Linked DNA regions of Homo sapiens: region 2 is linked to region 1. Evidence: fine-mapped expression QTL. Tissue or cell type: whole blood. Region 1 holds a variant in brackets; the other region holds the start of a gene. All regions are shown on one strand. Distances are between the middles of the regions.

What was found.
Region 2: ME3 starts here. The variant in region 1 is fine-mapped to the expression of ME3 in whole blood (TOPMed, PIP 0.97).

What each region holds. Positions count from the first base shown.
Region 1 is chr11:86,631,644-86,639,980 of GRCh38, forward strand. The region is part of intron 2 of ME3 (malic enzyme 3); the gene reads right to left. Among named protein-coding and RNA genes, the nearest start is that of ME3, 37 kb to the right of the region's middle. The variant T/G (reference allele first, on the strand shown) is at 4,510.
Region 2 is chr11:86,668,029-86,676,365 of GRCh38, forward strand. ME3 (malic enzyme 3) reads right to left here and starts at 4,588. Exons shown (of 15, transcript NM_001161586.3): 1 at 4,296-4,588; 2 at 3,734-3,930. The coding sequence starts at 3,916. RefSeq lists a silencer at 6,959-7,253.

The sequences.
Region 1 (8,337 bases):
CAATTTGAGTGAAGCTTTAAAAATAACAGGCAATAATAATAACAGGCATGGCACATTGGAAGCCTACGGGCTGCCAGGCACTGTTCTGATAGTTATAAATTATTTTGAGATAGAGTTTTATTCTTGTCATCCAGGCTGGAGTGTAGTGGCACAATTTCAACTCACTGCAACCTCCGCCTCTCGGGTTCAAGCAATTCTCCTGCCTCAGCCTCCTGAATAGGAGGGATTACAGGCACCCACCATCATGACCGGCTAATTTTTGTATTTTTAGGAGAGAGAGGGTTTCATCATGTTGGCCAGGCTGGTCTCGAACTCCTGACCTCAGGTGATCCTCCTGCCTCAGCCTCCCAAAGGGCTGGGATTACAGGTGTGAGCCACCATGCCCAGCCAAATTATTTTATTTTACCTATATGAAGAAGACCACAGATGAAGAAACTGAGGCTTAAAGAGGCTAAGTACCTTGTCCATGGCCACATAGTTTCTGTGATTCCAACTCTGACCTGCCTGACTCCAACAGCATAGTGGTGTGGACTGGATACTTCCAAAAGTGATGTGTTCAAGGGCTGCTGGGTGCAAGAGAGTGCAGCCTGAGCAGAGGGCCTCTGGGAGAGCAGCTTCACAGGGGCCTCACAGTTTGTGGGGAAGTAGTGGGGAACTGCCTGATCCGAGAGCCTAAATAGGGGAGTGAAGAAGGGAGACAAAATGGCCAAGGGGGGTGGGGTAGAGCAGGCTCTGTAAGCCAGGTATCTTGGACTCGCTTCCCTGTGCCTGCTTCTGCCTGTTCCTCACACTACAGCCAAGAAGTTGTATTCTTTTACTTTAGCAGGGTTTCCTGAAAAGAACATGGACTTGGGAATTAGTCCTCAGGATTCTAGTCCTGACTGTATTGCTGAAGACCCTGCCTCCCTCAGACATTAGTCTCTATGTCTGCAAAATGAGGAATGGCCCTGGACATCATCCTCAGGCCCCTCCAGTACTGCATACACTGATTCTCTGGCCATATGTTGGAGAACCTGCCACATGTGTGACAGCCTGCGCTGTGAAGGAGGGGACAGAGGAGGCCACAGGGGCAGAACTGCACTCCAGAGACCTTGGGTGGGCCCAGGTGCAGTGAGTGATACTGAAGGCCAGTGGTTTCCTTCAGGGCAACCCAGGTGCTCTGCAGTCACACGAATCTCTCCTGGGCACTGGTCCTCCATGGGAGCCCCAGGCCCTGGGGCAGGGCTATATGGACAGGAAACACAACGGTGAGGAAGGGCTTTCAGAATCCACATCCTTCAGTCCTCATGCATGAGTCAGCCACCACAGCTGGATGGCAGCACTTAGTCACTCTCCGCCTGAGCACTGCACGGCCCCTGTGCCCAGGGACACAGAGTCAGGATGTTGAGGGTTCCCACAGAAAACTGCTGTGAGTCCGATATGCATGTCAGTAATGACCACTGAGTCACCATCCAGCATTGTGTGGCCAGGCTGAGGATTTGGTTGCTTATTCTCTGGTCACAGAAACTCATCTCTGTAAAGTCCAAGGCCACATTACAGTCTCCAAGCAGCTCATTGACCCACAAGAGAGATGTGACCAAGGACATAAGCACAGTGACAGACTGACATTTAGTCACTTACTATTTGCTAGGTACTTTCCTGGGCTTTGTGTGTTTTGATTTATTAACTCTCATACAGCCACATGAGGGGTGCTATTATTAACCCTATTTTGTAGATCAGGAAACTGAGCACAACATGCTTACATAATTGGTCCAAGGTGCCACAGTCTGGGGAGGCAAAGTCAGAATCTGAACCCAGGTAATGCTGGTTCTAGAGCCCGTGCTGTTAAATGCCACATTCCACTGAGCACATTAAAATAGCTGGAAAGTAAGGGCATGGAGGAGAAATGTAATAAGAGAAATGAAAAGGTGCTAGACAGGACGCTTAGGGACATTGAGACTTGATTGGTATGAGAAGGGTGGTTGTGAGGGAGAGGAAGGTACTCTCATGGGTGTCTTGGCTGCAAATCCAGGTTGCTCTCAAACCCAAATGCATGCTGTTCTATAGGCCAGAGGGCAACAGAGGACCGTGCTAGAGGGGCCCGGAAGAGGAGAGGAGTCTGTCCATCAGATGCAATCATGAAGGACTTCACAGACAGAAGCATCTACCATGGGCCTCATGGGGTCATTTGGGGAGGTTACATGTCCACCATCTAGAGGGGAAACCTGGGCTCAACGCAGTTAAATGACAGGCCCACCATCAGTGGCAGAGCTGAGATGAGAGTAGGGCCACTGGCTCACAGCCCCATGCTGATTCTGCCATGACGGTGCCTTTGGAGTCCAGATAGGAGGAAAGAAAAGGAACCAGAATTTCCTTCCTGCACTTATTCTCCCTTAACCTTGATATGTTCCATTAATTGAGTCCCCAAATCCCTCCCAAAATACACCCCTCTCCTTCCATTCCTACAAACAGCCATTTTGGGCATGAGGAAGGGAAGGAGGAAGAAAAAAAGGAGAAGGAAGAGTAGAGGGAGGAGAGATTGGGAAACCTGAGAGGGGTGTTCAGGGATGCCTCCATCTGGTCAGTCAGAAGTGGGGGCCCTGATTTAAATCCCCCTCCCAAATGAACTGGGTTGTATGGAGCCAGAGCTTGGGTTCATGTCTCTACATGGGTACCACAGTCATCCCCACCAGGACTGTCTTCTCCTTAGACTGCTATGATGTTCCCAACCTCCCTCCTGACATCCTGGTTGTGAGTAGCATGTCAGCTAATGGTCAGCATGCCCGTGGGACAGCTTTTTAAACTCTAGACTTCCCAGTTTTCTTAGCTCATAATCAGATCATGAGACTGTCTTTCTTACTGTCGCTCAGCTTACCTGTGTCTCAGCAAAGTCGTGGACTTTGGTTTGAAATAAATTATCATGCTGCCAAAAGAAAATTATCCAAAAAACAAAGAATGACTGGTAGCATTTTAGTCCCATACCTGGGGTATTGTCTACTATGCATGAAGGCTCAAGTTAGAGACAGGATCACATTCACATGCTAGTAAATGGTTCTGGGTCTTTTGTGTTTTTTTTTGTTTGTTTTGTGTTTCATTCTGAAAATAAAACATCATAGATAGCAGCTGGTTTGTCCATTGTCTTCTTTCTTGGAAATCTTATGGAAGGTTCCTTTGAACACTATCCTTGGCTTCTCTGTTAGGACAAACTGAAACTGTGATTGATAACAAACCATAGAAGTTAATTTAAACAGGATTATCCATTTTAATTGACTTGTAATCGTGAGAATAACAACAACAACAACAAAAAACCCAGAACCTCTAAATGGTAATTCTTGAGGGGTGAAATTGTATCTTTGCTCCGTTCTGGATGTTACCAGGCACCGTTAAAAAATTAGGAACAGGCTAGACACGCTGGTTCACACCTGTAATCCCAGAACTTTGGGAGGCCAAGGCAGATGGACCGTTTGAGCCCAGGAGTTCCAGACCAGCCTGGGCAACATGATGAAATCCCTACAAAAATTAGCCAGGCGTGGTAGTGCACACCTGTAGTCACAGCTACTCAGGAGGCTGAAGTGGGAGGATCACTTGAGCCTTGGCCCTGTAAGAAGAGGATTGGGTGATTGGCTCTATAAGAACAGGGAGGGACATCAAAGCTTTCTCTCTCCACCTGCATACACTGAGGAAGGGCCACGTGAGGACGCCGTGAGAATGTGGCTGTCTGCAAGCCAGGGAGAGGGCCCTCACCAGAAACCATGATGGTACCCCAATCCTAGACTTCCAGCCTCCAGAACTGTGAGAATAAGCCACACAGTCTATGGTATTTTGTTATGATAGCCTGCTGTGGTTTGAATGTGTCCTCCAAATTTCATGTATTGGAAACTAACTTACTCTCCATTGTAATGGTATTAAGAGGTGGGACCATTAAGAGATGATGAGAGCCCTCAAGAATAGATTAAAGCCATTATCTTGGGTGTGGGTTAGTTATCTCAGGAGTAGGTTTCTAAAAAAAGGATGAGTTCTACTTTATTTCCTGTCTCTGTCTTGCAGGCTTGCTGTTGCCAGATTCCAGAACCATGTTCTTGGACTTCCCAGCTCCAGAGCTGTGAGGAAATAACTTTTTTTCCTTTCTAAATTACCTGGTCTGTGATATTCTGTTACAGCAGCAACAAATGGACTAACACAGCCTATGTCATTTCCCAGAACAACTCAGTGATGTTGATACTCATCTTGCAGACAAGGAAACAGACTTAGGGAAGTTGAGAGATAAGCACAGTCTGGTCAAATGGCAGAGCCAGAACTGGACTCCTGGTCTTTTGGCTTGATAATTTCTTTCCCTAGTTCTTCTGGGGCTGCTTTGTTTAACCTAGTCCCCGTATCCTGGGAAGCTTTGGGCTAAAGCTCACACATTTTCAGGTAGAGATGGTAGAGATCATTTACCAGCCTACAAGGGTCCTAGAAAGAAACCTGGGTGCTATGGAAGCCTGAAGCTTCTGAGGGGTTGTAGGAATTGGAGGCAATTCAGTGTAGTGG[T/G]AAATGTGTTGGGGGCAGGGCGGGGTATGTCTGGTTTGAGACTTTCTGGGTTAAATCCTCTGTGAGAGCTTAGGGATGCCTATTACATTCTCTGAACCCAGTTTTTCTTTCTTTTTTTTTTTGTTTGTTTGTTTTAATCTATATGAGACTAACTAAGGTATTTGCCCCTTGGAGCTTTTATAGTCTTTAAAATGAGATAATGTCTGTGAAATGCTTTTAGGACACTGCCTGGCATAAACACTCATGAAGAGAGGGAGTGAGGTCATGGCCAGGACTGAAGAGTAGTGGCTGAGCACTGCCCAACCACTGCAACCAACACTGGTTCAGGAGAAGCATCCCTTGGTGCACCTCCAGAGTGACAACATTCCCTATGCCCAGACACACATGACAGCCTGCAGGGCATGCATAGCCCTCATTCCTGACTTACTCCTCTAACAACCTGGTGATGTTTCAGATGGAGAAAGTGAGATCTGGAGAGGACAAAGCAGTCCAGTAGAACATGCACAAGTTTTGGAATCGGAGCTGCATTTGTACTCTGGCTTTTCTATTTGCTGTGTGTGATCTTGAACAAGTTACTTAACTTCTCAAATCCTCAGTTTCTTCATCCTGAAAATACAGAGTTGATAAATGATTATCTAAAAGGGTGTTATGGGAATTAAATGAGCAAGATACATGAAGGTGTTCCTAAGAAGGTTAGTTTCTGTTTCTCCTTAAGTGCTTTGCTTATAGTTACACAGCAGCTGGTAAGTAGCAGAGTAGGGTCTAAAAGCTAAGCTTTAGGATGCTGTGAGGCCAGAGGAGTAGAATTACAGAGAAAGTGAGAAGCCAAAGATCTGGACAAGTGCGTTAAGAATCTGTTTGCCTGCCATCATTCTTGAATCAATGTAAAAAGTAAAAGAAGCAAAAAATGGCGAAAAAAATGAGCAAATCAGTAATGGTGCCTGTATCCAGAATCCCCAATTGGTTTCAAGACTAACAGTGTGTGGGTCTTATACGTAACTAATATCTATACACGTACATTCAGGGAGTCTCCATTAACTCATTCAGTTAACAAATACTATGAAGCATCTGCCATGTGTGTGAAGCACCAAGCCAGGCTCTTAGGGTTACAAAAACTGACAGAACAATCACGGTCCTTGGGAGATCCTATTATAGTACTGAAGGTAATACGTAAACAACAACAACAACAAGAAGCACAAAAAAAAAAAAAAAAGCAAAACTCATTACAGCAGTGTGATAAGTGCCATGGCAGTGGAATAAACACCCAGACACAATGAGAAAGCCCATATTTGGTCTAGAGCTGTCAGGGAAGATTTCCATGGGAAGTGATGTTAGAGCCAGCAGGGCTAAGAGAAGCAAGGGAGTAGGCAGCACAAAGATGTGGAACAAGAGAGCCTGGTGTGCACTTAGGAGCAGTGAGTCTTGTGTAGCACGCACAGCACAGACTAGGGAGTAGGGATGATGAGGCTCGATTGAGACACCCCTCGAGAAGGGCCTTGTGCGTTGTGCTAAGGAGTTTAACTTTGTGCTGTAGGTGGGAGGAAGCACAGGAAACTTTTTAAGAAGGGGAGTTCATGTATTACCAATTTCATCTGGTAGAGGTTGATGAAGAAGTTGAACTGGGAGTAGGAGAAATTGGAGATAAGGAAAATGGAGATACGGAGACCATAGAAATGTCCAGATGACATCCTGAACTCTGCACACACAGAAAAATAGTCACTGATGATTACAGGGCACAGGCTTGATATGTAGAAATAATGTATCTATGAATTTGTGCAAATATATGAATATATATGTGCAGACATGCTCATGCATACACACACACACACACACACACACACACACACACACACATAAGGAAGCAGGTTCTGTCTTTACTATGGCACCTGGGTATGAAACTCACATGGCTCCCAGCTTCCCACAGGAGCCCCCCAGGCCTGGCTGTGCCTCCCCACATGCTGTCTTAGAAATGGTGTACCTCTGACTTTTCTGTTGTGGTAAACCCAAGTGGCTTTTCATTTCCAGGCTAACCTCAAAGCTAGAGTTTGAGGTGATTAAATACTGCCTGTGAGGTTGTGGTACTGGAAACTTCCTCCTAAATGATGTAAGTACAGGGAGTGCAGCATGCCTGGGTACACACACAGCACATCCAGGGCTGTGCAGTGCAAGAGCAGCACAGCTGCATTCATTTCTGTAATCAGACCTTTAAATTAACATAGCAATTACAGCCACAGGAAAAGGAAATCAGCATTTACTATTGATTTTTCATATACAAATGCAAAAAAAAATCACAACCACAGCACACAAATAAATAAGTAGAACTTAATGTGTCTTTGTTAAAATAAAAGCTTTTGCTCAAAAAAGGACGAAAACTCATGTGAAGTGTAGGCTAAGGGTGGATGACACATTATCTTTCAAGTTTTTAGAACTCTTACTAATATGATATCATTGCTAGTAAAGGGTAAGGGAGCTTAAACTAGCATTTACTGGGGGCCTACAATGTGTCAGATATTGTGTTAAACAAGCACTTTAAATAGCTATAATATCTCTTTTAATCCTCAAAACAACCTTAGGAGGTTAGAACTGTTATCCTCTTTCTACAGATAGCAAACTTCAGGAAAGATAGATCAAGTAACCTTCCCAAGATCACACTGCTAGTAAGTGGCAGGGTCAGGATGTAAATCCATGTCCCTTGAATTCCTAAGCCTGAGCTCCTTCCACTTTACTCCCCCGACTTGCCTCCTCATCAAAATGTGAACCACTGTACTTCCAAACCTGTCTGGAAAGCCCCACCAGAAATCACTGTCATCATGCCCATTCTATCTCTAGAGAATGTTAGATTGGAAGGAGCCTTGGGTTATCAACTACAATACCCCAAAAATAGAAGTTTGCAGGTAACACAGCAGAGCCTCTCACTCTATATTAATGTCTTCTCTCTCCGTGGCAAATGTTCTTATTACTACATCTGTCTGAGATCTCCTGTCTTAGGAATTAATGGTTCCCCACAAAAGTTTGCTGTTATTATTGTTGTTTTAATCACAAGATTTATATTCTTGCCTGTCTGAAAAGGAGCTGGAGGAGTAATGCCTTTTCCTTTAGCAGATTTATTCAATGGAAATGCATGAGCTGAGTCTCCCTAATGTACATAATGTGTTTCCACAAGATCCTATAAAAGAATGAATAAGAAGTGAGTCAATCACAGCAAAATGGTTGTATTTACAATTAGTGCTCAGTTTCTTGAAACACAAACCTCCTACCCAAATATTCATCCAAAGGATAAACATCTCCCCCACACATTGCCATAACCAGTTCCTCCTGGCACAAAAACATACATCTAAGCATCCGTATCCAGGATATAAAATGATGCCTTCCAAAGCAAGGGTTCAGAGGATACCCTTGTGTGGTGGTGCCTCTCCTAGAATCCTGGATCTGAGCTTTCTATTGGGTCTGGATTCAAAGCTAATTCTCTCTCAGATGAGAAAATCACTCATAAACTCAGTTGTGTTGATCTTGATGATATCTGGAGCAGACATGCCTCCTATTTTCTACAAACTGAGATGCTAAATGGAGTAAAAATGAAGCCCCACATTAAAGCAGAAAACTTCAAGGTAAAAGAAACCTGAATATCCTTTCAAATTAGGCTATAAACATAGTTTTGCTTTCAGGGTTACGTGGTTGAAAGTCTCTAAGAAGGGCAGATAATTGGGACACAGTCTTCCAACTACGTTTCGCATGAGTGGGTGATTGGGGGCAGGATGTATGAGACAATTGAGTGAGCAGAGCTGATGGGAATCAAAGCCCACCTCTGGGCATGTGATCTCAACATCT
Region 2 (8,337 bases), 36 kb after region 1:
ATCATTTAGAAAATCTAGACTCCTGGAGGGAGCTTGGAATCATCTAGTATCAATTCTGTCACCATCAGGAATATGCCTAAATCAGTCTATGCAGTTGTGAATTGCCATCATTATTCAGTAGACTCAAATACAGCAGGCAGGCTGCCTCTGTCCACTTCTATGACCAATGATAATCTCTGTGGAGTTGCTTGGCTTCTTCCTTGGCTTCTCTTTTCTTTGGAAAATGAAAATGTTGGATGAGAACAATTATTTTCAAAAACTTTTTGTTACTACAATCCACAGTAAAAATAGTCATTTTACATGCTGACCTGATAAAATATCCATCTTTATTAACTTCAATGCATTTGCTATTTTTCTATTTCATTCTAATACATTTCTTTAAAAAAATTGCTGGTAGATCCACTAAGCTAATTTCATGTCTCATAGTTTGTAACTCATAGTCTGAACAATTCCAGACTAGATCATCTCTGAGGGGCCTTCCTACCCCAATTATGGAAATCATCCTCATTATCACCTAATATTTACCACATGGGGGCTGTCTCCTATGATCCTCAAAGCAGTAGTGTAACACGGGCAGAGGAGCTTATGAGATTCATCACAGATCACATGGCCAGAGCATGATGGAGCTGGTACCAGAACCCAGTGAATGCACAATAGCAGCAATGCTTGCCCTGGTCGGCACCTCTTCTCTCAGATAATTCCACCTCCTGACCACCCTCTGTCATACAGCTGCGACTTAAATGCCACTCCTAATCTGTCGAAATGAGCTGCAAATCTAGTGAACACATTCCAAGAATTTAATGTTAAGCTAGATCTTTCAGGCACTACCCCATGCCAAACACAGGTGGACGAATCTCATTACCTGGCCTGGAAGGGCTCTCCTTCTAACAGAAAAAAATCCACCCACAGACATGAACACTAAGCACAGCATTGAAGACTCTTTCAAAACTGCACTTCCATTTTGCTTCCTCAGTAATAACCTCATTGTTCTATTTAACCTCAGCACTATCTTCCCACCTGGCTGATGCAAAGTACCAAGGCTCAAGCCTTCCATGGAGACTCTCTGAGCACTGGAGGACAACAGAACAGCCAGAGGGTGGCACTCCAGTGGGAAGAGAAGGGCACTCACAGTAACTCCCAGGAAGCACTCCCTCTGTTGCTCCCCTTCTGTCCCCAAGGGTGAGTGAATAGGGGATGCCAACAGGCTGTCAGCCTCCTTCTAGATACCCTTCTTATCCCAGACAAGCATCAGCTGACTTCAGGAATATATAAAAGATGTTGTTTAACATCATGGAAAGGTCAGGTCCTTAGATTTATGGATAACACCTGTATTAGTCTGGTTCTTACACGGCTGTGAAGAAATACCCAAGACTGGGTAATTGATAAGGAAAAGAGGTTTGATTGACTCACAGTTCCACATGGCTGGAAAGGTCTCAAGAAACTTACAATCATGGCGAAGGCACCTCCTCAGAGGGTGGCAGGAGAGAGAATGAGCGCTAGCAGGGGAAATGTGTCAGGCACTTATAAAACCATCAGGTCTCGTGAGAACTCATTCATTATCACGAGAACAGCATGCAGGGGAACCACCCCCGTGATTCAATTACCTCCCACAGGGTTCCTTCCACAACACGTGGGGATTATGGGGATTATAATTCAAGATGAGATTTGTATGGGGACACAGCCAAACCATATCAACAACTTATTTATAGTACTTGGGAGAAAAAAATTTACATCAGAGGCAAACGACAGGGGCAAGAATGATTTCAGGGGACCAAAACCTAGGTTTTAAAAAAAGACTTAAAGATCTTCCTTCATTTTCTTAACTACTTAACAAAGCAATAAATGCTGGTTGGTAACATGCCAGTAATTCTAAGGCAATTATTTTCACAATGATTGGAGCCTGTAGTGGGAATTTATTGTTTTGCTTTCTACATCCATTCCTCCTCCTTCTGATGACACTATCCATATTTACTGTGAGGATCTATATTCCCTTTATTCCAAGCCAGATGGTGTGGGTGGCCCTACCTTAAACCCCATTTTAACTCCAGGGGTGGGCTCTGACCGGCTTTAATTACTGGTGATTGGTTTTGGTTTGGGAATGGGAAGAGAGAATCTAATCAGAGTCAATAAGGCAGAAGGATTCGCTTTCTGAGGCGTCAGAGAAAGGGTATTTTCTCTTCCCCAAGAGCTACCAGAATAAAAGTATCTTTCTATTCCTGGATGATGTGGTGTGAGAACAGGAGATGGAGGACTGTGGCAATAACGAAGTGAGAGACTTCACTGAATAGAGCTTGAGGATGAAACTGACCTTGCAGAGAGGCAGAGTAGAGAGCCAGAGAGAATCTGCATCTTGAGCAATGCCATCTGGGCTTGTGGTTCAAGCCGTGCCTGCAACCCTTCCTCTAGATTCTTTAGATAAAGGAGCCTTTGTGTGCTTAAGCCAGTTTGTATTTTCTAACGCTTACTAGCAAAGTAATTCAAGGTGATAACAAACACCTTGAACACTTTGGAAAGTGGTAGCGTCCAAACAATTTAAGGTTTCTTTTGGAAAGAGCAGGACTCCAATGTGATAGAGGTTGATTTTGATTTTTTTTTCCTTAGCCGCTTCTATTAGTTCTGTAGGAAACAGTCACAATACTTCACATTATATAGTTGTTCCTACTTCTCAAAAACATCTTTTCCATACAGACTGCCTCACCTGAATTTCACAATCCAGAGTCAGAGCAATTATGAAAAAAAAATTTATTTTGCAGTAATTGTTATTCAGCACTTTATACAGTTTAAAATATGATTTCAAGTTCAGTGATTCATTTTATTGTCACAATAACCAAATGAGATAGAAATGGTGGGTCTATCATAATATCTATTTTAGGCTGGAGAAAGTTGGGCCTCAGATAAGTTAAATGAGATATGTGAGTTAATTTGAGGAGGTAGGGGGAGACAGGACTAAATCTGTCCTTGCTTCTATTTCTCTCACCCAATCCTCTGAACCAAAGATACTAAACTCTATTCCCAAAAACAAATACAAAAGAGCTAGCGGTGGGTTGAACTCGACCAAAGCATTGGAGATCTGGATTCCAGTGGCAGAGCCAGAACTAACTAGCTGGTGACCTTGGGCAAGTTTCCTTTGTCTTGTTTTTTGTAAAAGAAGAGGTTTAAACTAGGATCTCTAATGCTCCTGCAAGCTCGAAAATTTCTATAAGTCTAGACTTTTCCATCCTTGCTCTCAAATTAATCTTTTTCTCAGAATAATAATCATAACCTTATTTATTCTCCCACTGGGTACCAGGCACTGTTCTAACGTACCCCCATTTTCTACCCGCATTTTCTCTTTAGATCTCACGACATTCCTAAGACAATTATATCTCTTTTACAGATAAGGAAACCTAGGCTCATGTAGGTTAAATGAACTGCCCAAGACCAATAAAATTAGTAAGCATCAAGGGGAGAGCTGACCGCAGGTCAGACTGACCGCGAGGATCTAAACCTGGTCTGTGTTGTTACTGCAGAAGAAATTAGGCTCCCTGCATTACTGGTCGCCTCTCTCCACGCATAAAAGGGAGAGGAGGGACAAGAAAGCCAAACCAAGTCACAACAAGCCCCTGCAAGGCAAAAACAGAAAAACCGCTGGAAGGGCGCCCGGGAGGATCCTTTCTGGGTCCAGGGGGCGGGGCGCAATTTTCCGGCAGCCACGGGATCGCAACGCGGGCCGTCCTGCCCTCTGGCCCATTACCTTGTTGAGATGAGGGTTCCTGGTGACATCGTATCCGCGCTTCTTCAGGGGCACAGGGCGCGCCGGGCCAGGCTTGGAGTGGCAGCCTTGGGCGGGCGCGGTGGGTGTCCAGCGCGGGAGGGCGCCGCAGGCCCGGCCCGGCCAGGGAGCCAGCCGCGTGCCTGTCCCCAGCGCGGCACCCATGGTCCTTGGCAGACCTGGCACGGGAGAGAAAGCAAGGTCAGGGCCTCCTTCCAGCCAGCCAGGACCCACGCGCGCTGCGGGGCACCGGGCCTGATCCGGGGACGCGCCCTCTGGGAGAGGGCAGGTGCTCCCAAAGGGTTAAATGTTCCAGCCCCCGCCACTCCTCGGCTGCCACCTGCTCGGCTCCGCGCGGGGCGCCAGGCCTAGCCAAGAGCCAGGCAAAGCGAAACCAAGCCCTGGAAGCAGATCCGGTGCGGGTGACAGCCGGCGCCACCCCTGCCCCCATCCCTGTGAAAAAGAGGCGACTGCGCGGCGAGGGGTCCCCGTACCCCTAATCCCGCGTGGTGGCTTGCCTCGGTCCTCTCCTTCCCTGGCCCACCTGCGCTGCTCGGGGAGCTGAGGTCTACGCGGTCCCGCTGCGGAGCAGGCGGGGTGAGGAGCTGCGGTCTGTGAGTCCTCTCCCGCCAATGGGTGGACCGCGCTGGCGGCCGCGAGCTCGCGGAGCTGGTGAGTTCCTCAAAGAGCGGTCCCACAACCTTTGTTCTCAGTGCCTGGCTTCCCCTGAGGACGCGCGTGGGGCGCCTCAGCACTGCGTGCACGTGGTTTTCCCCAGTGACAAGAAGCAGCTCAGAATGCCCGCCTGAGACTCTCCATCTTGGCAAGACTAAATGCACAGAGGGGGATTTGCGTTTGGGGGTCAGCATATCCTCGCACTCTCCCAACATTCGGGGAAGGGCGTGCCTTCAGGATTTGGAGTAGAAATCCTCAGGCATTCGGTGCTCAGTGTTGCCTTGTGCTGTCCAATATAATAGCCATTCGCCACGTGTGGCTATATAAACGTAAATAAATTAGTCTATATAGAATAAAATTTAACATCCAGTTCTGCAGTCACGCTAGCCACATTTCCAGTTCAAGAGCCACTTGTATGCAGATACAGAACATTTCTGTTTTTGCGGATACTTCTATTAAGCATCATTGACATAGGAGCCACAGTTACTAAGAGGACTTCTGAGGACCCCATGGAGTTTGCCATGGGTTATTGGGGCCAGACAGGGATCTTGGGGTCCATCTAGCCCCAAACTTAATTTTATACTTTCTCCACACAGTAGTCAGGAGATTCCTTTTAAAGCAAACACTTTGTTGTGTGTGGAATAAAATCCAAACTTTCAGGGCCTACAAGATTTCCCATAAACTGGCTCTTGCCAGCCTCTTCAGACTTATCCTACTCTACTCTTTCCTTCTCACTGATCTCTGGCCATACTTGATCCTTCCTGTGTCTTCACCCCACTTGGTTCCCTCCCACTGCAGGGCCTTTGCACTTGCTATTGCCTCTCCTTGGAAGGCTCATACTCCAGCCTTGCAAACCACTACTTCATTCCCACCTCTCAGTTCTCCACTAAGTTGTCAACTCGAAGGCCTTTCCTCTATCCCATTCAATGTCAGCCTGCACTAGGAACTATAGAGTGAAGGGGTTTTTCTCTTTAGAGAACTTAACACAGTCAGTAGCGCGCTTGTTTTTCTGATTGTTTACTGACTATCTCCTGTCTAGAATGTAAGCTTCATGAAGAGAGGCTCTTTGCCTGTGAACCTGTGTGTCCTCACTGCCTAGCTCACTGCCTGGTATGTAGTTGCACAATAAATAGTTGTTAGGTGAAGGGAAGTGGCAGCCACTTTCATAAGGATCGTGAACCCTTAGACTTACTGACAGACAGTTGGCACGGTCCTCTGCTGACACCCCTTCAAAGCTCCCGGTGCCAGCATTAGCCCCGTTGTAAGTACCAAGCAGACATCATGGCCCATAATGTGCTAAGGGGTGCTCCTGCCTGAGTTCAGGATTCCCTCATCCCTTCAGGAATAATCGTCTCCTCCTGCAGTCTCTCTCCTCCCTGTGTAATATCTAATTTTCAACTTGAATGATCTACGTAAAATAGTTATTTCCAAAACAGAATTACAATTACCTGGTAGGAAATAAGGATGGGGCAAAAATACAGCTTTCCAGGCCCCATCCATGAAGATTCTCATCCAGTAGGGTTTACATCCCTGAAGTCAGGTTTACTCTTGGACTGCATATTTACATAAGCTTATAAATGATCTTTTTTTCTGCCTTAAACCAGTTTGTGTCAGATGTGTGATTGTGTGCAACCAATAGTATTAACTAAATCCTTTCAACACTATTTTTATATTGGCACTTCTTCCCACCAGTCAACATCTTTGGGGGGCAGAGATCATGTGTGTTTCCATCTTTGGTATCTAGTGCATGCAAATATTTGGAAATTGATTGTTGAACCAGTTTGCCCTTGCTGAATACAATGACCTTTCCCTCCCCTGGAGGATATCTAATAGGTAACTTTAGTCATTTGAAACCAGGATGTAAACAACAAAGGTTTCCAAACAAGCGAACATAATTTTTATAGCATCAATTCACTAAAGCTTGTACAGTTTACATATAAAAGTCTCTTACATGTCCTCACCTGTGGCCTATATTCTCTTAACCCAGGCATAATTCTACAATGTTGTTTTGTGTGTGTGTTTGTTCTTTGGTGACAGGAAAGAAAAGGTTAAAGGCAGGTCCACCAGGAGCAGTGACAGAAGGCAGTAGCAAGAGGAGGTGGTGGCTTCTCAGTTCCATACAGTTGTCCAGGGACCCAGGTTTTCTCTTTTGCTGCCAGGCTCTTCTGTAGCTGTTGCCCGCCTCTACACAGCGCTAACACCATGTTAGCATCCCAGCCGTGGAAAGCGGGAACAAGGAAACAGAGGGAAAGCAAATCGATTTGTTTTTTTAATTGGGACAGGGTCTCACTGTGTTGTTTAGGCTGTTCTTGAACTCCTGGGCTCAAGCAATCCTCCTGCCTCGGCCTCCCAAAGTGCTGGGATTACAGGCGTGAACCTCTATGCCCAGCCAAAGCAAATCTGTTCTGTGGAAGTGACATGAAAGTTGTATATATTACTTCTACTCACATTCCATTGGTAAAAACTAAGTCACACATTCATATCAAGCTACAGGGAGGGCTGGAAAATATTGTTTGTAGTAGGAAAGGCATGTATGTGCTCTACTGAAGTTCAGTGGGGAGTCTATTACTAAAAGGAAGAAGGGGAGAATGGTTCCTAGGGACCACTAACTAGAAGTCTAAATATAATACTCATTTTCTGTTGAAGTGCTTAGCCCGTAGTGGGTGATCAGAAACTGTGAGCTGTTTTTATTGGCACGTGTGGTTTCCATTTCTGCTTTTGTGGCAACTTCCTTACTTTTAGAGCTGAATATAGGATTTCAGAGACCAGGTTCAGAACCATGGAAACATTACAGATCTTCTTCCAACTCCATACAACTCTGACTTCCTTAGCCAGCCAGGAAGTTGGCTTGTGATCTGGTGATCTGGTCCAGCACTATATAGAACTAATGGGTCTCCATAATTTGTCTTGGCCCCTCTCCTTTCATATCCCATTTACTGACTTCTGCCATCATTGTAATGATGCTTCTTGGGATGGCAGAGAAGGAATCTCATTCCATCTCCTCCAGCCAACAGTTCCATATTCCAGGTATAGTTAATACTTTTGCTTTTCCATTTTGATTACAGAGATTTAAATATCTACCTGTTTCCCTACTAGATTGTGAATTCCTTGATGACTACAACCACCATTTATAATTCTTTGCATCTCTATACCTGGGAAAGTGCCTGGCACTTAGAATTAACTCAGTTTCTTGAATTAAATATAATTGTGGTTCAAATTTGTGCATAACCTTCCAAGGAGTGGAATTAATTGAAACTAAATTTGGTACATTGTTAAAAGGGCACAAAATGGCTTCAAGTCAGATTTTTAACTCAGTCAGCTATCTTAAAACAAGATCTCTTATCTTCTGAAAGCAGATGTTAATGACCTTACACATGGATTTTAAAAAGGAGGTGAATATAAAATTCATTATTTTTCAGTTAATCCCATTGCTTCACAAACTTATTCGTAATATTCTGCACAACATTTAATGTTCATGATTGCCCCAAAGAACTCTTTAAATTCATATTGCTGCTAGTAATATTTGTAAGCACTTCAACTCTATCATTATTATTATTATTTGCAGCAAAGGAGAATTATGGGGATCATTTATTTCTTCCTGGTCTGCATACTCATCACTCTGCTTATGTGCCCTGAACTCTGGGCCTTTGCTCAGCAGTTTCCTCTGCTTCCAGCATCTGCCAGTTGAAGCCCTGTCTGTCCTTTACAATTCTACTCAAACACTACCTCCTCCAATGAGCCTTCCGAGAGTGCCAACCAGCAGCTTACCCTCCCTCCCTGATGCCCACAAACTCTGCTATTTTTATCTCTCCTATTCACTTTTATTGCACTTTTGAAAATCTCTCCTATTGTGCAAAGAGGCTCATAAAAGTGAACACCTTTAAATCCAGATAGTCTGGACTCTCTACCAG